Homo sapiens: one gene and its partners. The protein of the gene in region 4 interacts with the protein of the main gene of each other region in a pairwise test. Each region holds a gene or a part of one and is shown on either strand. Other genes may lie near its edges.

Region 1 (7,034 bases), on a different chromosome or scaffold from region 4:
TCAGGATTTTTTTAAAAAAAAAATTATTATTATTATTTTGAGACAGGGTCTTGCTCTGTCACCCAGGCTGGAGTGTGATGGCACCATCACAGCTCACTGCAACCTCGAACTACCTAGCTCAAGCAATCCTCCCACCTCAGCTTCCCAAGTAGCTGGAGGCCACAGGCACAAGCCACCACACCCAGCTACATATATCTATATAACTATACGTATTTGTAGAGACAAGGTCTTACTATGTTGCCCAGGCTGGTCTCAAATTCCTAGGCTTAATCAATCCTCCTGCCTCAGCCTCCCAAAGTGCTGGGATTATAGGCATGAACCACCGTACCTGGCCCAACTCAGGAATTTTGTACTTATACTAGCTTTGTACTTATACTAGCTTGCATAATACTAGCTTTATTAATACTAATAAAATAGCTTAAAAGGTTTTTTTTAAAAAACTCATTTTAAGAAATATTCTTTCCATCCTAAACTGTAACATGGTCTTCAAAACAAACTAATTTCTTTGCTTTTTCTGCCAAAATATCAATTATCTAACCTTATGCCCCATGTCTTGTGACAACTCAACACTAATTCTCCTGAATTTTTTAAGCTGAATACTTTTCCATCAAGTTGTAATCACATACCAGCTGTTTCCCTTGCTGTAGTATAGAAAGCAAATGTACAATGCAGGGTGCCATCTACTGAAACATGAATGCACAGACTAGTAAAAGAACAAGCAAGACATATAATAGAGAAAAAAGTAACAAGCATTAGAACTGATGCACTTCACAGCTCCACAGGAATTCTACTTGCAATAAATGAAATTGTTTAATTTGTTTCATTTAGTAGCAACTATAACTGAGACTATGATGTGAAATAAAGTACAATGAACAAGAACATAAGTGAGGTTATAATTAAAACTTATTGTCAGCCATGCCTAGTTCTTCCCACTACTAAAATATACCACAGCTTGACAACTGCCTTCTTTGCGTGCTGATTTAAGTCTATAACCTATATGTGTACTTAAAGCAAAAGGGTATTAATAACTTTTTTAAAAAAATTAAATATCTCAAGGCAAAGAGAAATCAGACAAATGTTTGCAAGTTACATAGACATTTACATCAATCTGTATTTTCATAAGCTTCTGTTTTTTGTAAAAATTATATAGTTTTCATTTGCTTTCAGACATTAAACTTTTTTTTAACTAAAAGAATCATTCTGTGATAGAATTTGAATCTAAAAGGGAGGGCAGGAGTGGTTTGGGGGATATTAGTCTGTGAGCTTTAGAAACATTAAATAAAATATTTGATATCATACACATGCAGAGACTATTTAAAAAATATACTAGGCTACATGTTCATTTCCAGATTAGCAACCAAAACCAAACTAAACCCTACAGATCTGTGTACTATATAACTGAAGATGTAGTAGAAGTATTCACTGAAAGATAGTTCACTTATTTTGATAAATAGAAATGTAAGATGCAATTATTTACTTATGAAAGATCTTGAATTCTTATAAAGATGAATATGATATACACAAACTATTAAATAAAACAGCATTTGTTTCACACTATGAAATTTAATATTCTTATTAATCCTGAGTAAACAAGCTTTGAATAAGGAACTAAGAAAGTGACACCACGACAGATATGGATAAGGCTTAACATGTATTTTTAAATCTGACATAAATTCTAAGGTACTTTCCAATAAAGTTTTACCATATTCAGCTTTTCTAATTTCATGTCATTTATTATGGGACTTGTTTTTTTGAAAGCCTTAACTTTGGCTGTCAGTAGTTTAAAAAGGATGTTTGATAACGTAAAAGAGATGCATATCTGTGCATGTATGGCAAAATGTGTGTTCACACATAATAATATATTTGTTAATGCAAAACAGTTACCTGCTGTGGTCCTCGGATTGCTTTTCCCGGGGAATCGAGTGAGGGAAAAGGTGCATCAGATGGGTCCAGAAGTGGGAAGCTATTTACATATAATGCATTATGGTCTCCAGGTGGCAAACACGCAGCTCTATCCAGAGTTGTCCTGATACAAGTGTTTACGAGATTTGAGGGCTTTGTTTTGTCAGTTGTTTTAAGGTTTTGTATAGCTGAAGCTATGGGGTCAATTCCCTGAATTTCAAATAAAGTTTCTTCTGTTTTAACAAAGTTCCCTGGGTTGTCTCTGAACTCCATATTAAATTTCTCTTGGCACACTGCCTCAGACGTGGCAGGACTAAGGATGCCGGGTCTCTCTGGAGTGCTATGTAAGAAAGTTGAGTCATTGTCCATAGGTGGAAACTTGACATTGAATTTAGAAAGTGATTCAAAAGAGGTGTCTTCCTCATCTCTGCACAGTCCTCTTGGTGTGACAGATGTGATGGATGGTGCACCTCTATTTATATCATCTTTAGCCTGAGGCTTAAACAGCGCTTCTTGTTTATCTGTTTTATCCGTACACTGTATAGGCACAGAGCACTGTGTTTCTGGAGGGAGAAGAACACAAAAGAGAAACAGCCGCATTCAAATCATTAAAAAAATCTGTTCAATCAGCTTTGGAGAGATTATTATTATTTTTTCTATTGGTTTTTATAGCAAATGAAGACAACTGGGATTTTAAAATTTGCTACCATCTTACACAGAATATTAGCAGTCTCCAGCGGGTGAACTGAAACATAGCTTATTAGTCGCAATTTAACTACTTTGTCTTTTCCTAAGTCTTCTGCCGTAAGCTTTGCATCTTGTTCACAGTTACACTGCTCCACACTTGAAAAACATTTGCTTGTAGTGTATACATTTAAACATTTTGTCAGTAACGGAAGCTATAACTGTGAGTTTGCTTAGACAAATAAGTTGTTAAAAGGGAAAATCTTACTAGGTATATCTAAAATTAGGTCATTTATTATTAATGTCACTGTCTAACTAAGTATATCACTAATCAGTTTAGCCACTGTCTGCTCTCAATAATCCATGTGAGGGACTGGTGGTTGCAGGAGTTGGGAAAAAGAAGACAGTGAAGGCAAAGGAAGGATGAAATATTGTGATGCATGTTAAGAAAACTGTGGATGAATAGATTATTTTATCATCTTATATCTTTTTTTAAAAAAGACCTCTGTAAAAAACAGGTAAATATCTGGTAGACAAAAGGGCCTCTGTAGCTCATTTATCTAGAACCACTTATCCAACAAATTCAGCTTTGTAGGACACAGTCAAAAGCTAGAAAGAAAACAGAGCTTCTGAGGAGCCAGAATTAGAGCCACAAGGTTCATAGATAGATGAATTTTGTTCCTATTGTCATTTTAGATTTATTCTAACAAACTTGGTGGTATTTCCACAGCTCATAGCTGGTTTGAAACAGCAAATTAAAAGGGAGTATGAGTTGCTAAAGGCAGACATAGATATCAACAAGAGCTAAAAGCATAGGAAGAGATAAGAAAGACAAAGAAGCTGATATAAGAACTTAGAAAACACTACAGTCTAGTATAGGGCCAATGAGTGCTCAATACAAAAAAACAATCATCAAAGTACTCTCCATGTTGATGATTCTGAGACACTAGAAAAAGCCAAATTAAGCTCCACAATGTCCCTTAAAGAAGGCACTGAAGTTGGTAATGTATGTATTTTAAGGATTGTCATCAGCACTGTTGAACATTCACAAATGGAGACATTACCAATGATGCAAATCTAGGTAGACAGGGTATACAGAACACAAGGTATACAAAGTATCTGTACAGGTTAGTAGGCACTTAACAAATGTCAGTTCCTTTATATTCCTTTGGTCTTGGCAGTCTCATGACACCTCTCTGTCTTTTGCCACAGCACATTCCAATATATTTTTTTCTGTTTGGGTATGTGTAGTAAAATGCAACCAACTTCTTTGGTTCATTTTGTTATATACCTACTGCCTCTCTTTATACCTCTCTTCATACCATCCTTTCTTATTGGATTATTATAACAGCCTTTAAACTGCTTCCTTGCCTCTGAATTTGTCTCATATCCAATCTGTTCTCTTCACTGCAACTTCCCCTCCATCCCTTCATTCTCAGAGTAGTTTTTCTAAAATACTAATCTGACCAAGTTACCTTCCTAATAAAATCTTTTGATGGCTCTACAAGCCCCTCAGATCTCAGAAAAGGCTTATTAGACTGTTCATGACTGGCCCCTGGTCATCTCTCCATGCTCATCTTTCACTCCATACTCTGGCTATAATGAACTTTGTATAGTTCTCCAAAATAGCTACACTCTCTTGTCTTTGCACCTTTGCACCTGCTGTGCAGACTGCCTGAAGTGTCCCCTCCCATTACTCTTTGCCCAACTCTTATTTGTCCTTCATATCTTGGCTTGGACATAAGTTTCTCTGGATGACTCTCCCATGACTCTTGGATGCCCTGAGAACTGAAACACACTGTTATATAGTTATGTGTCACTTAACGACGGAACATTTTGAGAAATGCAGTCTTAGGCAATTTTGTCATTGTGCAAACATCATAGAGTGTACTTACAGAAAGCTAGACAGTATAGTCTACTACACACCTACATTATATGGTATAGCCTATTGTTCTTAGGCTACAAACCTATACAACATGTTACTGTACTGAATACTGCAGGTAACACAATGGTATGTGTGTATTTAAACACTGAAAAGGTACAGTAAAAATATGGCATAAAAGATAAAAAATGGGTATGCCTGTATAGAGCACTTACCGTGAATGGAATTTGCAGGACCGGAGGTTGCTCTGGGTGAGTCAGTGAGTTAATGGTGAGTGAATGTGAAGGCCTAGGATATTACTGTACATCACTGTAGACTTTATGAACACTATACACTTAGGTTACACTAAATTTACAAAAAAAACAAAATGTGCTACAATGTAACAACAGCTACCTACAATGTCACTAGGGTGATATTAACTTTTTTTTTTTTGAGACCGAGCTTCGCTCTTGTTGCCCAGGCTGGATAGAGTGCAATGGCATGATCTTGGCTCACCGCAACCTCTGCCTCCCAGGTTCAAGTGATTCTCCTGCCTCAGCCTCCCGAGTAGCTGGGATTACGGGCATGCGTCACCACGCCCGGCTAATTTTGTATTTTTAGTAGAGACGGGGTTTCTCCATGTTGGTCAGGGTGGTCTCGAACTCCCAACCTCAGGTGATCTGCCCAGCTCAGCCTCCCAAAGTGCTGGTATTACAGGCATGAGCCACTGTGCCTGGGCTGATATGAACTTTTAAGTACCATTATAATCTTATGGGGCCATCATTGTATATGCAATCTGTTGTTGACTGAAAATGTCATTTGGCACATGACTGTATTTCCAAGTATAACTCTGTTTCTTCCCACTAAAGTAGGTTTTTTGAGGTCTTAAACTGTTTTGTTTCCTTCTAACTCCAGACCCTTGCCCAGTGTCTGGCACATAGTATGCCCCTAACAAATGAATTCTGAATGAATCTGTAATCTCTCCCCTACAAAGCCTACTATAATAATCAACATTTACCAGATACTCTATGACTAGGAGTGCTATAGTAATTGTCACCAAGCTTAATTGTTTATCTGGATTTCTTTAGCCTCTGAGGTTCTTAAAGTCCATTAACTCTCGAGTAGTCATTTTCCCTGGCAGTAGACTTGAAAGTGGTAGGAAAGTCTAGGAAACAGTACTGTCTTTGTAGATGACATTTGCTACTTGCAAATAACAAATCAGGAAAACCAACTGTTGAGGTAATCAGATTCTGTAACACCCGAAGAGGAGAGACTTATCAAATGATCTTCACAAGGAGAACAAGGTGAATGCTGGAGAATCTGCTGCTGCTGCTGCTAATGGAAATGACTATTAACATTAATAGCACTTCCACATGGCATGTACTATTATAATAATTGTATGTACATTAATTCATATAATACTCAAAGTAATCCTGAGGCAGGCACTATTATTATCCCCACTTTACATGTGAAGAAACTGGTTGGAGAGGTTAATTCAAAGGCCACACAACTATTATAGTAAGTGGTAGATCTGCCACTGGAACCCAGGCAACCTAACTGTAGATTTGTGCTCTGAACCATTAGGCTAAATTGAACATGTTGGTTTCTATATATAGAGAGAAGTCCCCAAATTGACAGAAATGTGCTTTGAATTATTTTTCTAGCAGTTGATCTATCCCCGCTGTGAACAAAACGAGGAGAAATCAAACAGCTCTAAAAAAACAGATATTTTCTTTCAGCAAAGCTAGCTGGCATAAAACTCAGCCACATTAAAATAATCTGAGTTAATCTGCTCAAGCAGTGAGAGTTAATATCTATTAAAAAAATTTAAACCTTACATTCCTAATGCTACTAGAAATCTAAGCTGAGACAACTTAAAACTCAAATGAGATGCATGAAAGCACTTGTCATCCTGACACCATATTGAGAAACATGATCAGGTGAGCAAATAGCTTTTCTATTTTGTCTATTTTAAGACTACTTAGCTTTGCAAGGAAAAAGTAAAATGGGAAATATTTTTAGATTTCCCAGTTTTAAATACAGGCTATCCATTTAGTTACTTCTCAGTATAATCACGTTGTATATTGACAAAAGAAAAAGACCTCATGGTTGTTTATTACCCTTCTCATGGATGTTTGTTACCCTTAATCCTATATTCTTCCTTCCCAATCTCTACTGAAATTGGACACTCCTTTATGAACCAAACAGTACTTTATTTGAAGCTATGGATAAACATACATTTTATCTTTATCATTTCTTAAGTCTACTGCCATATGTAGATGAGTAGAAAAAACAAAGTAATAATAAATAGGAAATGTAGAATTCTACTAACTCAGTATTTTCAAATGAATCATATCTGGTTATTTAAAAGTAAAAATCAAATTTTAATACAAAATAACATAGGGACAATACACGTACTCTTCCCAGATATATTGTGCAAATCATATTCAAAATAGTTCTTCTATATTTTTATACAGTGTAGCATACATACTTGGAAACCCTGAATAGGCATCTTTTCAAAAAATATTTTTTCCTTTCTCCTTTTGATATACCACTGTCAGAGTATAATATTTATTTTGGTTTCTCT
Region 2 (7,690 bases), about 27 Mb from region 4:
ATTTGTGTACATGAATCTTGTATCCAGAAACTTTGCTGAATAATCAGTTCTAGGAGCTTTCTGGAGGAGTCCTTAGGGTTTTCAAGATAAACAATCATATTGTTAGCAAACAGGGACAGTCTGACTTCCTCTTTACCGATGTGGATGCCCTTTATTTCTTTCTCTTGTCTGACTGCTCTGGCTCGGACTTCCAGTACCATGTTGAAGAGGAGTGGTGAGAGTGGGCAGCCTTGTCTCGTTTCCGTTCTCAGAGGGAATGCTTTCAACTTTTCCCCATTCAGTATTATGTTGGCTGTGGGTTTGTCATTGATGGCCTTTATTACATGAAAGTATGTCCCTTGTATGCCGATTTTGCTGAGGGTTTTAATCATAAAGGGATGCTGGATTTTGTTGAATGCTTTTTCTGCATCTATTGAGATGATCATGTGATTTTTGTTTTTAATTCTTGTTTAGGTGGTGTATCACATTTATTGACTTACATGTGTTAAACCATCCCTGCATCCCTGGAATGAAACCCACTTGATTGTGGTGGATTATTTTTTTGATATGTTGTTGGATTCGGTTAGCTAGTATTTTGTTAAGGATTTTGCATCTATGTTCATCAAGGATATTGGTCTGTATTCTTTTTTAGTTGTGTCCTTTCCTGGTTTTGGTATTAGGGTGATGCTGCCTTCATAGAATGAATTAGGGAGGGTTCCTTCTTTCTCTGTCTTGTGGAATAGTGTCAAAAGGATTGGCACCAATTCTTTGAATGTCCGGTAGAATTCTGCTGTGAATCCGTCTGGTCCTGGACTTTATTTTGTTGATAATTTTTAAATTACCATTTCAATCTTGCTGCTTGTTATTGGTCTCTTCAGGGTATCTAATTCTTCCTGATTTAAGCTAGGAGGGTTGTATTTTTCCAGGAATTTATCCACTTCTTCTAGGTTTTCTAGTTTATGTGCATAAAGATGTTCATAGTTGCCTTGAATGATCTTTTGTATTTCTGTGGTGTCAGTTGTAATATTTCCTGTTTCGTTTCTTAGTGAGGTTATTTGGATTTTCGCTCTTCTTGGTTAATCTTGCTAACGGTTATTTTATTATTTTATTTTATTTTATTTTATTTATTGTTTCTTGTGACAGGGTTTTGCTCTGTCACCCAGGCTGGAGTGCAGTGGTGCAATCACAGCTCACTGCAGCCTTGACCTCCCCCAGACTCAAGTGATCTTCCCACCTCAGCCTCTGGAGTAGCTGGGGCTACGCACATGCCACAACGCCTGGCCAATTTTTATATTTTTGTCGAGATGGGGTTTCACCAGGTTGCTAAGGCTGGTCTGAAACTCCTGGGCTCAAGTTATCCTCCTGCCTCAGCCTCCCAAAGTGCTGGGATTACAGGTGTGAGCCACCCCCTCTGACCCATTGGGGACCATTTTACACGCTACCTGCCACAGGTTCTGGACAGATAATACAATAAAAGACCACTGTGCTGAGCAGTGACAAGTTGAGTCTAAAAAGTGATCATTAGAATTCAAACCAGACAAACAACACAAACAAGCTGAACCTGTAGAAAAATCTTGAGATTATAGTGATACCACAATGAGGATGTTAATATCAAATGTGCTAACAGATGGCAGTAATGCATACAGGTTTTAAAAATGTGTTTTTATTAAATATAAGACAGATAAAAAATGATATTTATAAAATATATGTTAGCTCTAAAGAAGAGTAGTAAAATTAACATACATGAATGTGCTATCCAACGTAAGAGAAGGCTCCAATGCTACCCTCTTCTGTCCTCCTCTAGAGGTGGTCACCATTATGCTGAATTTTGTGATAATTATTCACTTGTTCTTCATTGTTTTATCAGAGATGTCCATATTCCTACACAAGATACTGTTGGTTTTCCCTGCCTTTGACTTTATATCAATGGAATCACACTGTAGGTATTTCTCTGTGATTTGCTTGTTCCTCTAGAGATTATGTTTCTGAGATTTATCCACTTGATGCTTTCATACTGATGTTTTTCAGTTCCAATCAAACTTCACTAAGCTCTTCATATATTGTCCTAACACAGGAACAAACTCAGTGTTATCATTTGAGCCACCAGCTTTCTCTTGTACAACATGGTATGACTATACTATTACACAACTCATCTATGTATGGATGGATGGACATTTGGGTTAGTCCCATCTTTTTGCTACATAAATAGTTCTGCTGTGAACATCACTTTACTTCTTTCCTGGTACACTTGTGCAAAACTTTCTTCAGGGGATACACCTGGGAAAGGAACTGTCAGATCATAGGCATATTAGCTTTAAGAGACAATGCCAAATTGTTTTCCAAGGAGGTTATAGTGATTTACACTCCTGTTGGCAGTTGTTCCAAATCCTATCCAATATTTGATAATGTGTTTTTTATTTTTGCCAATGTGGAAGGCATAAAATAGAATTTCATTGAGGTTTTGATTTGCATTTCACATGAGTTGTAATATGTTTTACTGCATTGCCAAATGTTATCCAATGATCAAATGAGACTCTGAACTCTGTACTAAAGTTTTTGCCATTATCCATGCAACTATTTACAAGTTGTTGTTACTTTAAAATCACACCTGTGCAAATTATTTGGTTAAAAGTCAAATACGTACCTGTGAAGTGTGCACAATAAAGCAAAAAAAAAAGGCAAATGCAAAGAATCAAAACTTGTGATAACTTAGTGTCATGCCTGTGTTGCAAGGTGGGATAAGACATAGTCAAAGGTGAATAAAGCAAATAATTTTCATGGACATTGCACTCCTTATATATTTATTTGAGCATATTATGTGAAGGTGGAAGGTGTTGTAAGGGAATTAAGGGGAAAGTGAGTCACCTATGTCTAGTTTATGTATAATCTTTACTGCCCTAAGGCATGTCCAAGGAAAAAAGGGGTGGACAATCGGGAGTTGGACACATTTTGTTTCTGACGCAGAGCTCAGCAGCTGTCAACATCATAAATAGAATTTGCATACTCGGAGATCAACAGTGAGGTGGTAATAAAGGAATTACTTCCTCTAGATGTTACTCTTTGTTGTCAATTTTGGATTGCAAACACACTAAAGTTGGGACTGATTACAATGTTAAGCTTAGTGAGGTCTTGATTGGACGAGAAACACGTTCCAAGACAAGGCAAAGGTCCTAGTGTAAAACCAGCTGCAAAAGAGCATGAAATCAGGTGATCAGTGTCAGCTGGCAGCAGTCTGTTCTTGGAGGCAGAGCTGAAGAAACAGAACCTGCCAAGAATTTGGGTTCACCACGGGATCAGGCTGGATCCCTGGTGTCTGAGCTGGCCTCATTTGAGATGGAGTTGAGTGTTGACAGAACAATCAGTGGGAGCTGGGTGTTCCTAATGTTGCACTTTAAGCTTCTCTGTCAAAGTTAGCACAGACGATAGATCAAGATGACGTTTACTCATGAATTGTTGGGATATAAATTTATATTTTTCAAAGGAAATTTAAGATATCAACAACTTAAATATGTTCCTATTTTTGACCATGTAATTCTACCCATAAGAACCTGCCCAATCAGTTGGGTTATTGTAGATGAAAGTAAAATCATTCAAATTATCTCAAGAAACATTAAGAGGCTATACAGAGACAGAAACCCAGGAAAGTCTAAGCATCCCAGCCTTAAGTGCACAGACCTGGGGGCAGCTATGGGTTTGGGCACCCTTGGGATGACATGGGTTTCTCAGGGTGCTACCTCTATTCACAGGACTTGGTTCCCCTCCTTTCCGCTCTAGCTTTTCTTTACCATAGGACTGTCTTATTTCGTTTCTACAGCCCAGTCACCTTCTGGCAACACCACCTGTTGACTCTCAGCATTTCCTTGTTTGAACTCTTGATTGGTTAAATTACCTTTCCAAACGACGCAAGTAAGAGGTTTTTGGCCAGTCTATGGATTGGCTGCCCTGGGATCAGATGACCTCCCTGGTCCAATCAGCTGAGGCTAAGGCTAAAAAGGGACAGCTCACCCATAGCTGCTCCAATGGGGCGGTTTCCCTTGCAAAAGACTAGCGGCGTGAACGGGCAAACACTGTGATGGACATCTCTAGAAAAAGACTCGGAAAAGAGTCAGAGATAGGGACTAAGAAGTGCCTGAAAGTGCGCTTGCAGCGCGCGTGCACACACACGATATCCAACCACAAAGTACAATAATGACTTGCTGCTTAGGTGTGCGACAATGAGCAGCGAAGGCACTGACTTTGAAGGCTATTGGAAAACACGAGGAAATGCTCACAAAATAATATTCCATGAAAAAGAGCTATAAAACAGCATATACCGAATGATCAGAATTTCCAAAGAAAAAAATTGCATATTTTAAAATTTGGACGGGAAAGCCAACAGGCTAGTGGTGTGATAACTGGCGGTATAAAAGTGCTTCTTTATTTGGTCATACAGCTTTCAAATGTTGCTTAACGAACAGATAGCATTTTTATAATCAGAGGAAAGACTCAGTATTAAAGTGCGCGTCCCATCATTGCAACCGGGCCCTCGGGCAGCCAGCTCTCTCTTGCTTCGCGTCCGGCTCTCAGGCCCTGGAGCTCGGCCTCCCTACCTTCTCCAGGCGCGGGTCCTGCTCCTTTTCCGGCCGCCCTCGCTCCGCCCCTTCGCCTCTCCCCGTGATCCCTCTCTCGCTAACCGTAGGCGCTTTTCGTGAAGGCCCGGGTTTTTACAGCACTTCGCTTTTCTAACCACGAACAGTGCTCGTTCGTTCGCAGGGCCAGCAAGGAGAGCCCCGCCCCCGCCCGCCGCCCGCCGCCCGCCGCCCGCCGCCTTTGGATCCCGCGGACTCCGCCCGGCCCGGCCTCCCCAGGCATGGCGCCGCTGCGCTTCTCCGCCAATCTGTCCTGGCTATTCCCCGAGCTCTCCGGCCTCCCCGCGCGGGTGCGGGCCGCGGGCAGCTCGGGCTTCGAGGCCGTCGAGGTGGCCTGGCCGTACGCGGAGACGCCTGAGGCGCTGGCGCGCGCCGCGCGAGAAGCGGGGCTGCGGCTTGTACTGATCAACACGCCCCCGGGTGCGTCGCGGGCCGGGAGGGCTGGGAGGGCTGGGGGGTGCCGGGGCGCGGGCAGGGGAGTGTCCGAGCCGGGGGCTGAGGCCCGTTCTCTCTGCAGGAGACCAAGAGAAGGGGGAAATGGGGCTGGGGGCCGTCCCCGGGAGACAGGCGGCCTTCCGAGAGGGACTGGAGCAGGCCGTGCGGTATGCCAAAGCCCTGGGCTGTCCCAGGTACCCCGCTCCACCCCACCCCCACCCCTGTGACCCATGACCCTGATGCAGGTTCAGGGAGTCGAGGACGCCAGATCTGAGACGCTCAGAAGTCTGAGCCCACTGGTTTATCTCTGCCTCTGCGGTCCTGGTCCTTTGTAAATTGCCTTTTGTATTTTATCTGTCTTATGCCACTCTGTTTGCCACTCTTTCATGCTCACCCCATGCTGGGATCCCATGCTGGGAGCTCAGTCTGCCTAGGCAGATAGGAGAGTAAATATATACAGTGATGCATTTGAGGACAGGCCTATTCCAGGAAGCTGTGGGAGCAGGGTAGGCACCTAACCCTGTCTGGATCAGAGAAAGCTGCTTACAGGTAGTGATGCTTGGACTGTCTTCAAGGAGTGGGCATTGCTTGATGGGCAGGAAGTTGAGTGTTCCTTGCAAGGGTGCTGTGGCAAGAGGAGGCCTGGTGTATTTGGCAGCGTTCCTGAGGCTGGACATGTATGTAGCCTGTTGGGATGGGGAGGCCTGGAATGTCTGCTTGGAGCTGGATGTGGCTAAGATCAGGGGATGATGGGAGGAGGTGGACGGCTCAAAGTGGGGCTGATTCAAATGTCAAATCCTGCAGAGGCCAAACAGGCTCAGAAGGAACTGGCAAGAGGGGATCACTACTGGTCAATGGTGGGGGCAGAAAACAGATGGGAAAAGGCTAAGTAGATGCGAGGAGAGGAAGTAGAGACAGCAGCATGGAATACCTGAGAAGGGCAAGCAAAGGTCAGGACAATTTTTAAAGGTGAGAATTTAGCAGGTTACAGGTTGCGGAGAAGGACCGAGGGAAGGAAAGGTTTTGGAAAGTACTGGAGGCAGGAGGCGGTGGGTGGACACTGAGATGTCTGGGAAAGGGCTTGCCCCTCAGCCATCACTGAAGTGTCTCTGAAAGTGCTGGGATACCTGGGCATCGTGACCCAGGTGCCATGGACTGGAGACCTGGGGAGACGGACGAGGGCTGGCACAGTCAGGGAATCCTGGAAGAGGTGCAGAGAGAGCCAAGGGAGGCAAGGCCTCCAGTCCATCTTCCCCACAGGATCCACCTGATGGCTGGCCGAGTACCCCAGGGAGCTGATCGAATAGCAGTCAAGGCTGAGATGGAGGCCGTTTTTCTGGAGAACCTGAGGCATGCAGCTGGGGTTTTGGCTCAGGTGAGAAAGGTGGAAACACACACGTACTTACATGTCTCTGTGGGTGTGCGGAGAAGGGGGTGCACAGTGGGGACAGCACGTGAGGCTGCCAGCCTAGGTCAGAGGAACAGGTGAGGGCCTTGACCAGTGACTGACTGATGGGGGACAAACTTGGGAAGGAGCTCTATTCACAGCACCCGACATGCTGCTAGGAGGACCTCGTGGGACTGCTGGAGCCCATCAACACCCGCATCACTGACCCCCAGTACTTCCTGGACACGCCCCAGCAGGGTACGACCCCAGCCCTGTCTCTCCTTCTGTCCCTTTTGATTCCTGTGCTCTTGAGGCTCACGGTCCCCTCCCTGGCTTCTCTTACAGCGGCAGCCATCTTACAGAAGGTAGGAAGACCCAACCTCCAATTACAAATGGTAAGTGGAAGGGGGTACTTCGCAGATCGGAAGGAGGGCGGGGCCTGCGGGGTCTCGGAATGTAGTATCCTCTTCCCTAGGACATATTCCACTGGCAGATCATGGATGGGAACCTGACAGGAAACATCCGGGAGTTCCTGCCCATTGTTGGTGAGAGGACCTTCCTTTGCCCTCCCACCCTTTCAATCCCCACATCTGTCCTTCAGGCCCTGGCAGGAGCCTGGACCCCACATTTGTCCACATCTGTCCCCAGGGCATGTGCAGGTGGCACAGGTCCCAGGCCGAGGGGAGCCCAGCAGCCCCGGAGAGCTGAATTTCCCCTATCTGTTTCAACTGCTGGAAGATGAAGGCTACAAAGGCTTCGTGGGCTGTGAGTATCAGCCTCGAGGTGAGGCGTGGCCCTGGGGAAGGGAGCTCTGGAGGGACCCGGACAGGGGCTGTTTTCTCCTTGTGGGCTGAGGTGCCGAGGCCTCCCTCTCCCTGCAGGAGACACAGTAGAGGGCTTGAGTTGGCTACGTTCATACTGGGATAGGCGGGGCCACCCAGAGGCTGGCCAGTGAGGGCCCGCACACCACCCACGTGCCTCCAGACAGCGAGTGACATCCCATCTCCTCCTCTGCATTAAAGATGACCTGCTGAACATTGTCATATGTCTCTGTAATGGGGTGGTGGGACACATAGTGTCTAACACTTCAGTTTCTCTGCTGCTTCCCTCCCATTGAGAAGCCAGTGCCAGGGTTGCTGTGAAGATGGGAGAGCTTCTGAACCCACCTCATTAAAGGATGAGAAACCCAGGGTCCGAGAGCAAAGGGACTTGACGGTGGCCACAAGTGCTTCAAAGGCAGAGCTGGGATTGGAACCCAGGT
Region 3 (4,045 bases), on a different chromosome or scaffold from region 4:
GTCTGGTTTAGTACTGGAATTGCACTTGGGGTTGACAAGGTGCTCACACCATGAGAATGGAGGCAGGAATTGAGCTGACTGAGGGAAGATGCACCTTGATCTCACCCTCACTCCAAGGCACATAGCAGGATCACTCCCTAGCTTCTCTGAGCACACCTAGTTGGTTTCATGTATGTTACACATGCTTCCACTCCACAGTACCTAATTTCTCTCTGTCCCCTGAGATCTGAAGGCTACCTTGGGAAGAGGCATCAGCCATCTTGCTTGAGAACCACCAAGCCAAAAGCAAAAGCTTTTATCTATGATCTCTTGCTGTTTCATCAGGGGAAAGCACAAAGCTATTTCTGAAATTAGGAAAAAAAAAAAAAAGGTGGAAGGAGCAGCCAGATGTTCCACAGGACCCCACCAAGAAGGTCATTTCCAAACCCATCCTGGAAGGGCCCAGGATCCAAAGGTCATCAGTCCTGCTTATCTGACCAACTGGCAGTGTCTTCTGGCTGCTGGCCGGAGACAGCTCTTGCCCTTTCCAAAGTCACTGTCCACTGCCTTGCAATTGCCAGCTTGTCTGGTCCAGCTTTGGGTTTGGTGAGACTTTTGCAACATCCCTGGTTGTTTCCCTGGCAATGTGACTATCCAGCCCTAACCCAAAGCAAGGGAGTGCCCCTTTCCTGGGTGAAGTTTACAAGAAGGCTGCTTAAATGCCTGCTTCGGGGAAATCTCTGCCTCTCTCTCTCTCTGTCTCTCTCTCTGTCTCTCTCTCTGTCTCTCTCTCTCTCTCTCTCTCTCTCTCTCTCTCAGTGTATTTCTCTACTTTCTTTTACATTTCCTTTTTTTCTATCCAAAAACAATGTGCTTGTTGAGGCACTGGTAACCCTGATTAACCAGAACCTCCCATTCCCAGTATCGCTGTTCCTACGCCCATTTCACCCTCATTACCTTCTGCTTCCAAGGAATATGACAGATCACCAGGATGCTGCTCGTCGTGAGGATTTATCTCAAAAACCAACATCCAAAATGGGAGGGAGATGTGGCTTGAGGTCAAGCGCCATGCATCCCAAGCCTTTGACCTTCCCGCTATGGAAGTGCACTGGATGACAGAAACTGAATACATTGCTCCCTTTCCCTAGGGCAAAGTTCGACCTCTGTTAAGTGGAGGGATTTGTGAGATAAAAATTCAAAATGTTGGCCTGAGGCCTGAGAGTGTCACCAAAGACAGAGGGAGCTTCACTGAGACTCAGAGGGAAAAGGAAAAGAGCCTCAAACATTTTTAGGAGGTTGTCCATCATGAAAGTAAAAACGAAAAGCAAGATTTGATCTCCCTTCAGTTAATTAGGCAAGGCTAAGTAACTCAAAGCCCCCTATTAGTAACATTCTGGTTCACTGAGGTTTGATCATATTCCTATCTGCATTCCTTCCCTTCTTTGAAGGACAGCTGATCTTTCAGAAGCAGAATAAAATTAAGATGTTAGAACAAAGGTCTCAGTCTCAGAGAACCGCATCACTTCATTTGCTCAGACCCATCCTCTTTTGCAAAAGGGTCTGCTTGGAGAGGCCAAAATTCAGGGTGCTCTCAAAGGCAAAGAAAGCACATTGTTTTCCTTCTCCAGTCCAACTTTCATCTTTTCTTCTGCTGTTTTCTTTTCCCCTCTTCTTTTTCACAAATGTTCAAAATGGTCTCATGCGCATGTGTCTTGCCCCACTTTCCCCTTTAGCTGAACAGAAAATTTTGTCTCAGTAAAACGAAGTCAAAAAACAGGATTCCTCCAAACATGCCTCCTCCCGCACTGGCCAGCCGAGTCCAGCTGAGAAACTTATGCTAGATTCAATGTCATTGAGCAATGCTTTATTGAAGTCTCGTTCTTCTCACTTCTGCACCAGTGAGCCAATGATACTGACAGAAATGTCATCTCTCTTCTATCTGTGGTTGCTGTTTTTGGAGTAAAAGTTTCTGTGTGTGTTTTTTTAGTTCTTTTGATGGCTGTTGTTTTGCATTGTAAATACCATGATGGGGGACCCCCATCAGAACATGGCTTATTTAATAATTTATTTCGTATTTATTGAGTAATATTGGGAAAAGAGAAGGACCACCTCTTTCCCTGAATTGCTATTGAGAATTGGTCCATCTCCCAGCTCCAGGTGCTGCTGTCTGCAGCAAGGGCATTACTGCCCAGGTAAGGAGTGCTAGAATCACCAAGCAAATTGAAATTGGCAGAAATGGAGGCTTCAGTCACACAAATTAGACTCAAATGGAACTAAAACACTGGTTATCTCCAGGAAAACCTCATTTAGATGGAAATTAATGGAAGAATAAAATGCCTACACATGAACCAACTTCTATTAAAAAGTCACAACTCCTTGAAAAAAAAAATAAAGAAAAATTGTAAACTCTTTTTTTTTTCTGGCCAAGGAAAGCTATGCCTCATCTTCTAACGAGCCAAGCCAAAAAGACTGCAATGGTATTCCTATGTGTTTCTTTGGCCTGTGTATCAGTCTGAATGAAATGGAATGGGTCTCTAGCCTCAGTCTTGTCATCTGTAAAATGGGGCTTGTCCTATATATTATCTGCAAGACGTGGGAAATGGGGGCTCAAGCCCTGATGCTATGGACTCCATACTGTTGGATATATTGTCTCTTGTGTCTTCTGCTGACTGCAGATTAAAGGGTGTCAACCAAGGAAGGAAACAAAAAAGTAGGGCCTGGACTTCATTTGCAGAATGAGGTCATAGTCGTTGAGTCCCACAGTCATATATGGGAGACCTCAAGTTGCTGTCACCTTGATAACTCTTGTATCCTGGGTTAAAGCCCTCTGTATTTAGTTTGAACTTCTCTCTAAGCCCCGTGGTCCAAAGTCATCACGGGAGAGACCAAGATGGGCTTACCTTGCCCTGCTCTGGATTTAACCATTGTTCATTGTCAGGCTATATTTTTGTACAATCATTCAAATAACCCAGTGACATAGGTCATATTGCCACTTTTCAGAGGAGAAAACTGAGGCTCAGGAGGGGGAGTTGACATGCCCAAGCTCCCTTGAGCTCAGATCAGCTTGACTCAATGTCCAACATTCCCTTGGTAGCTTTTTCTCCGGGGTCCTGTGCTATAAGAACTTCTCTCTGCACTGTATTTTTTTTTCTCCCAATTCTTAGCTATTTCCTCAAGCAATGATTGGCCAAGGACCTAGCATAATCCACCACATTGGCCAAGGGGACGTGGTGCACCCCAAGGCCATTTCTCTGCATTGGAGGCTGCGAATCTCCTCTGGAAAATTCCCAACCCGAGGACCCACCATGAGCCCAGCTCAGCCTGACCAGACAGCCTCTGCCTGGAGCATTCACATCAGATGGAAAGAAGCTGCTGTGTCCTCCAGCATCCTGGGACCCTGTCCTCTGCCCAGTGACACAGCAGCCATGGCTAGCTTGATTTCTGGTCTCCAAAGCTAAGCATAACCTTCCCGGGGTTTCTGGTTTTTCAGCCTGTACGAAACATGTCTCTGTTCTAATTAAAGTTCCCATGGTATGGTGTTCTCATATATGGCTCAGTGTTCTCTGTTTATATGGGGTACTCAGAATTAAAAAATGGGGAGGGAAACAAGGAGCTAGAGAAGACTTAAGTAGCACCTGCTGCGTGTCATACATGTTCACACTACTCAGCTCACATCTTTAATCTTCCAAACAAACCTGTATGTATTTTGGGTTTTTGGTTATATATACAGCATATATACCAAATATATACATGTTATATATATATATATATATATGTGTGTGTGTGTGTGTGTGTGTGTGTGTTAGTAGCAGCTATGGAGTGCCTTAGGCAACCTTTTTGGAAGCATTTTATATGTGTTATCTTAGTATTCAGCAACAACCAACCCTATGAAGTAGGTATTAGGAACTTCTTCTTACAAATAAGGAAACTGAGTCTTAGAAAAGTAAAGTCACCCAGGCACAGTGGCTCACGCCTGTAATCCCAGCACTTTGGGAGGCTGAGGTGGGCAGATTACCTGAGGTCAGGAGTTTGAGACCAGCCTGGCCAATGTGGTGAAACCCCATCT
Region 4 (7,034 bases):
ATTGGTAAAAACATCAGTTCATAAAGAAACTACATTCAGTCACTTTAATCATATATTTTCAATATAAACAGCAGTTAGAACACGGTGTGTCATAAACTTTACATACACCCGGCTGTGCTATCTAAAAGTTCCTACTGCTTGCCATGTAACTGTGGCTAATTATTTGACATTTTCCTGGTTAAATAACATAATACATATAAAGCATTTGGTATCAGTTTATCCACTATTATACTTTAAAATTATTTTCCTAACAATAGGCACATTAAAAAACATTCCCATTTATTAATGAACAAGATATTTATAAGAAAGAAAATCCAGGGCCATAGATCTAAATATATATGGGCAGATAATATGATATCTATTCATTTACTCTCAAAAAGACAATCTGCAAAGAAGACAACTAATTTTCTTTAAAGAAATATCATTTTAAACAGAAGCATTTTCACTAGGTTCTCTTGATCAATGAAAAAAATTAAAATTAGGCTATCCCAACTTAGAAAAACATAAATAATAAGAAAAACAAAATATCGTTTCAAGTATTAGATAATCCTACTGACATTTTGGACTAGATTAACCACTGCTGTGGAAGGCTGTGCTGTTTGTTGCAGGATATCTAGCAACATGTTGGTCCTTTGCCCTCTAGATGCAGTTGGTACTCCTGTGACCACCAGAATTGTCTCCAAATACGTCTGAGTGGCACTCCACTATACAATCTTTTATCAGAGTTTACAACATTTTAAACGACTAGGGTGTCACTCAACACAATTCCACATTTATGTCAAAATCATTTTTGCTAAGAATCACACAACAAAATTGCATAAACATTGTTTACCTGGTTCTATAGCAGCAGAAATTAGGGACTGTGCTTCTCGTACTCTTTTCATAGCTTCCTCTATTTCTTTACTAGAGGTATCCGATTTCAGACTTGGTGAAACGAGACCAGCAGCTACATGATTCAACCTGAAACAGAACCAAGAAATGGGATCTGAAATATTTTAAAATGCACACGAGCATTTCAAATAAATACTTAAGTATATAACATTATTTTAGCAAAATATTCCTTCAAAAAAAGGGAGGGGAGGACTCCATGATAACTTTGGTAAACAACATATAGCATAGCACTGTTTTGAATATTTACAAGTATTTGTTTTAATGACTAAGAGTCATCTGGAATTAGAAAAATACCTATTTTGCTGAACATCCATTAACTTTCCATAAACAAACACATTTTTAGAAATGCCAGTACAAGAAAATATGCTGATGCTAAGAACTTTTATTCATATAAATTAAAAATTTTTGGGCCGGTGTGGTGGCTCACGCCTGTAATCCCAGCCCCTTGGGAGGCCAAGGCAGGTGGATCACGAGGTCAGGAGATCGAGATCATACTGGCTAACACGGTGAAATCCCATCTCTACTCAAAATACAAAAAACTAGCCAGGCATGGTGGCAGGCGCCTGTAGTCCCAGCTATTCGGGAGGCTGAGACAGCAGAATTGCTTGAACCCGGGAGGCAGACATCGCGCCACTGCACTCCAGCCTGGGCGACAGAGTGAGATTTCGTCTCAAAAAAAAAAAAAAAAAAAAAAAAAAAAATTTATGACATAGTAATTTTTTGGGGAAGAGCATTACCTTTTACTTTGTAGGTGGGGAGGAACTGAGGCAGAGGCCAAAGGCCTACCAAAATTACACATGAAGTCTTGAGTGGAAAGGCTAAAGATGCCCCTTACAGGTTTACACATGTAAAAAAAAAATTGTAGGCCGGGCATGGTGGCTCATGCCTGTAAGCCCAGCACTTTGGGAAGCCTTGGCGGGTGGATCATGAGGTCAGGAGATTGAGGCCATCCTGGCTAACACGGTGAAACCCCGTCTCTACTAAAAGTACAAAAAATTAGCCGGATGTGGTGGCTTGTGCCCATAGTCCCAGCTACTTGGGAGGCTAAGGCAAAAGAATTGCTTGAATCTGGGAGGCGGAGGTTGCAGTGAGCTGAGTTTGCGCCACTGCACTCCAGGTTGGGCAACAGAGTGAGACTCGTCTCAAAAAAAAAAAAAAAAAGAAAAAGAAAGAAGAAAGAAAAAAAAATTATAGACAACAAATTTAGTAGTTATTTGTGGGCAGAACAGGAAATGTAATAAATAATGGGTATATAGGAAGCTTCAACTGTATTGGTATTATTTTATTTTATAAGCTGGGTGATGGGTACATGCTTGGTTTTATTTTTAGATAATTTCTAAGAAAAAAGTCCACTAACTACTGAAGTCCAACGATTCTGTCCTTTTCATGCTCTCTCACTTACTGATAGTGACTTTCACCAAGTTAAGGGGAAAAGGTATAAAGTTCAAATTTATTATGCCAACAAATAACCAGTGAAAAAAACTGATGAATCTGTCACATCATCAAGTCGGAAACAATTTCTGTGACAGCATGAAGAGCACTTATCAAAAGCACCTAAAATAAAATGTTGGCTATTAATTATATAATATGTAATACTACTTTGCTCTGGGATAGTGATTCCCTCAGCTTTGCCTCTAACTCCTACTATCCTCAGGACTCAGCCTCTGATCTTCAAACGAAGTTGTCCCTTATTAGCTCTTTTGCTATCATCCAGGTATAAGTCATTTACAATTACTATTCAAGACTCAAATGACACTGAAACAAAATAGTTTAGAGGACCTTACTTACTTCTGTATTTCTCTCCTTGTTTCTAGGTAACAATACATATTGCTTGTCTTGAGAAAAGATAACTTGATAACTTTCTTATAAGCTATCAAAAAAACTCTAATTCTGTAGACATTCAGATACCACATCACCAATGAAAACAAAGAAAAAACGCTTACTTGGGATCAACAGTACTCATAAGCTTCAGCAACTGATCTGCAGCAAGAGACTGTAAAAATAAAACATAAGAATAATGAGAATACATAAAACAATAAATGACCGATATTTTCTAGGCAGAAAACTGAACAACAGAAATCCATGCAGACTACATGCCATGAAACATAAATTTTTTAGTAGCCACATTAAAAAAGAAAAAACAAAAACAAAAAACAAAACAAAACAAAACAAAAACCGGTGACATCAGTAGCTACAGTATTGGATAGAGCAGCTTTAGCAAGTTATCTAAAGATTATGAGGCTGAACAGTCTAGGTATTATAGAATTATGTCTCCTTTAAGACTTTTTGACATAAAGAAACATGTAAAACTCAAAACACCTTAGCCAATATAATGCAAAAGACCTCTACAAAGAACTTCAGAAAAAAAGGTTAGCTAAATTAAAATAAAAGAAAAATTTCCATGATAGAAAAATTATAAACCACATTCTTATCTTTTCATGACTATTTACTCTGACTCTATGACACACTGATAATGTACTGGCTTCTTGTGAATCTATTTTCTATTTTGAACTATATAAAAGAAATCCATTAATGGATAAAGGAGTTAGTCATTCAGTGACTGTTTAAAGCTCTGACAAGTTTAAACAAGAAAAAAAATTACTACAACATAGCCATTAGCTTCTGCTCTTGAAATGCAAACCAACAGTTAATGAAACAGATCTTCTGTAAAAATGGGTGAAAAATTTGAAGTTACTAAGGTATACCTGAGAGTTCAAGTTTGCTCCAGGAAGCCCAAGTGCAGCAAGGGCAGGATCAAGAGTAGGAGCCCCCAAAGCAGCCAGTGGAACAGCGCCAATCTGTGAAATGGCAAATTTTATTTATTTAAAACTTCATTTCAGTTCCTTATACCAGGGGTTAATACTTTTTTAATGTAAAGGGTCAGATAACAACTTGAGTTTTCAGGCTACATGGTCTCCGTACAACTCCTCAGTTGTACACAAACCATATAACTACTGCCATCATAGCTTGAAAGCAGCCAGAGACGATACCTAAACAAATGGCTGTGGTCCAATAACAATCTATTAACAGAAATAGGAGTCTTGCTCTATATGACACCCATGTTCCACCCATTACAACACATTTCCCCCCTAAATCCTAGATTAAGAAAAAAAGACAAAATATTTCAACATATTCTTGTGCTGATTTTAATTATTTATTGCTTCTCAGGATCCAAATCTACTATTCTTTGCCCTGCTGTTTTGTGCTACCGGAGGCAGGACCTTTACAAAGCATTTCTCCTTTGACAGTTGCCATGATATAAGACTTCATTTGGAAAGAGTGCTGGAAGGACACTGACTAAGAAAGGGGCTCTTCCTGGTTGCTGTGTCCCCTTTCTGATTATTCCTGCAGCACCATGTCAAACACCCAGTAGCCCTCGCCTCTCAGTAAGTTTTAATACCAACTCCTTATGCAGCTCCCCAGGGCACCCAAGAGAACTTATTTACTAGTCACCCTTCCAAAAACAAATCTAAGTTTCAGCATAGATGGGGAAAGAGGAGTCCCCTGAACTAAATGGGTGTTCCTTCTGCTTCAGCCTCAGAGGTAGTGGTTGTTTCTTATACTTGTGATTCCTGTATTCATTAGAGTTCCCCTAGTAATCTCCTATAACTAGTTAGTAATTCCTTAAATGTTCCCTGTTCAAATCACTGCAGGGTTCTGCCACCTGCTTGACACCAATTCTGATTAATCCATAATGTAATAGACACAAACCATGAAAGTGAGGCTACTTTAAAACCATCTGTAGCTTTTGAAACAGCCTCACTTTCTCCACCTGTGCTACAAGTTCTCCTTGTTTCAATTTATTTAGTAAACACAAACTATCAAACTTTCTATAATTTAACTGTTTATTCGTAACAGGCAAAATGCTGTGTTAATACTATTTTAACTTACTGTCCAACATAGCTATTGCATAGCTTTATACATTAAAGGAATTTAGAAAATTACCCAGATCTGGACTGGGCGCGGTGGCTCACGCCTGTAATCCCAGCACTTTGGGAGGCCAAGGTGGGCAGATCACTTGAGGCCAAGAGTTCAAGACCAGCCTGGCCAACATGGTGAAACCCCATCCCTACTAAAAATACAAAAATTAGTCAGGCATGGTGGCATGCCTGTAGTCCTAGCTATTCGGGAGGCTGGGGCAGAATCGCTTGAACCAGGGAGGTGGAGACTGCGGTGAGCCGAGACTGTGCTATTGCACTCCGGCCTGGGTGACAGGGCGAGACTCTGTCCATCTCAAAAAAACAAAAACAAACAAAACAAAAAACAAACAAAAAAAAACAAAACAAAACAGAACAAAGAATAAAGAAAATTACTCAGATCCTCATTTTATAGGTTAAAAGAAATAACCTAGGAGTTAAGTGATAAAAGTCACACCTAAAAAGCTTAGGAACTCCTAATCTTTCATTCTATAGTGCACTTCACAGTTAAGAGTCAATTAGTCAATTATTTAGACAGGCAAAATGATACACTAGAAAGAATGCTTTTATAAATTTCCAGTTGAGGCTCATTCACTACAATCTTTGAAACTACTGACCAGTTACAATCTCAGTAATTAGAATACACAGTATTTAAAGTGCCTTTTAGTTCTAAAATAAGCTTCGTACAGCACTGTCAGTGTTAGAAACACTATTGCAACCAATTTTCTTTCACATTCCCATATCAAACATCTCCATCAAGAATTGCCTTTGTTTTCAAGCCACCTATGTAATTCAAAACCCCCCAAATAACAGGAAAAGATAAAGGGGAAGGAAAAAAAAATGAAGGGCTCACTTGTGAAATTTTAACTTCAGTTTTCTTTCCTGGTCCAAATGAATATATTTTTAACAGTGTGTTCAGAGAAGTGTTCATGCCTCAGGAGACTGTTCCAAAACTACTCATGGGTTATTTTGAGAGCCAATGGTAAAAGTGACAGAACAGATATTTTATGATTTTTCAGAATGTTCTTAAAATACAAAAGTCTAAGAGATCTTCTATACTATTTGTGATTTTGATATAGACATGTGATAATGCTATCTGAACTAGAATCTTATGAGTACTTACAAAGTTCAAATATGTTTAGCTTTATGCACAATTCTGTTTTTTTCCCCACCCTTTAAGAATTCAATAGAACTAGTACCTGGGTAAGTGGGTTAGGAGTAGGCAGGAGTCCACCACCAGGCAGAAGACCTGCCACTGCATTAGCTGGTGCCAACAGAGACAAAGCTTTAGCTTCATCAGGAATAACTCCTGCAGAGAAACATCCTTGCATTAGAACACATTCTTTTCTAAGACAGAAAACACACAAAAACACCCAGAAAATGTCTCCCTGATACACCACCTGAGTTTGTTGAAAGTACTTATGTTCGCTAAAATACAAAGCTTGATTTCTATGATTATTTATCATTAATTTTATGTCAGAATGAACTTCAATGTGTGAAAATTTGTTTCCTTTTTCTCTACAAATGGTTAAGTTTCTAGAGTAAAAAAAAATAGCACAATACACACTACTTTTTTGTTAACACTGCCAAGATTTCATCACCTGTACTCGATTTTTAAGTCATGAACCAAACGTAAGCAAGCACAGTCGGTTCTCCAGGGGTGTGCTCTCAACTTTCAAAAGCTGTTTTATGAACAACGACTCGTGTCGGCTGCTTCACTATAAAGCACACAGAAAAATCAAGATACACAAGACAAAAAAAGTTTGATTTAGGGGTTAATAATATGGTACAGTTACTATGATTTTCTTTTACACCTACCATACAAATTTTGTAAAAATTAAGAGAAGAAAGTATGTAAAGGAAATATTCTGTTGGAATCAAGCGTAGGGCTTTTGCTGACTCATGAAAATGAATATGAATGTTTCTGAAGGTCTCTGAATACACACAGGATGTGTGCATGGGAGTGAGAGAGAAAGAGAGATAGGTAAAACAACATGGCACATTCCTTACCTGTACAGTAAAATGCTTTATGTTTCGCCATGTGCCATGCTAACCATACCAAAAAATGCTGCCATACAGTGCCAGTTGAAAAGCTAACTTAGCCAAACTCCTTAAGCCAAAAATGACATATATATCTGTTTTTAAAGCCTAATCTGTGTATTCAGATAAAATCTAAGGGTCCTAAAACAAATATTTATGTAGACAATTTAAATTCTATCCAACAGC

The links.
Region 1: the proteins of SRSF11 (region 4) and TANK interact in binary tests that used the Homo sapiens proteins (3 or more experiments, as listed by UniProt).
Region 2: the proteins of SRSF11 (region 4) and HYI interact in binary tests that used the Homo sapiens proteins (3 or more experiments, as listed by UniProt).
Region 3: the proteins of SRSF11 (region 4) and SRRM4 interact in binary tests that used the Homo sapiens proteins (3 or more experiments, as listed by UniProt).

Annotation. Positions count from the first base shown.
Region 1 is NC_000002.12:161,226,402-161,233,435, reverse strand, and holds part of TANK (TRAF family member-associated NF-kappa-B activator), read right to left. Parts: intron 2,466-7,034; coding exon 1,885-2,465; intron 1-1,884.
Region 2 is NC_000001.11:43,450,932-43,458,621, reverse strand, and holds HYI (putative hydroxypyruvate isomerase), read left to right. Parts: upstream 1-4,690; 5' UTR 4,691-4,828; coding exon 4,829-5,027; exon of another isoform or gene 5,028-5,124; coding exon 5,125-5,236; exon of another isoform or gene 5,237-5,617; coding exon of another isoform or gene 5,618-5,719; exon of another isoform or gene 5,720-6,302; coding exon 6,303-6,417; exon of another isoform or gene 6,418-6,608; coding exon 6,609-6,687; exon of another isoform or gene 6,688-6,774; coding exon 6,775-6,824; exon of another isoform or gene 6,825-6,904; coding exon 6,905-6,974; exon of another isoform or gene 6,975-7,077; coding exon 7,078-7,212; exon of another isoform or gene 7,213-7,310; coding exon 7,311-7,384; 3' UTR 7,385-7,550; coding exon of another isoform or gene 7,551-7,603; 3' UTR 7,604-7,633; downstream 7,634-7,690. UniProt on the Homo sapiens protein: Catalyzes the reversible isomerization between hydroxypyruvate and 2-hydroxy-3-oxopropanoate (also termed tartronate semialdehyde).
Region 3 is NC_000012.12:119,159,528-119,163,572, forward strand, and holds the end of SRRM4 (serine/arginine repetitive matrix protein 4), read left to right. Parts: 3' UTR 1-3,524; downstream 3,525-4,045. UniProt on the Homo sapiens protein: Splicing factor specifically required for neural cell differentiation.
Region 4 is NC_000001.11:70,231,351-70,238,384, reverse strand, and holds part of SRSF11 (serine/arginine-rich splicing factor 11), read right to left. Parts: exon of another isoform or gene 6,275-7,034; coding exon of another isoform or gene 6,118-6,274; coding exon 6,008-6,117; intron 3,690-6,007; coding exon 3,597-3,689; intron 2,885-3,596; coding exon 2,835-2,884; intron 961-2,834; coding exon 833-960; intron 1-832. UniProt on the Homo sapiens protein: May function in pre-mRNA splicing.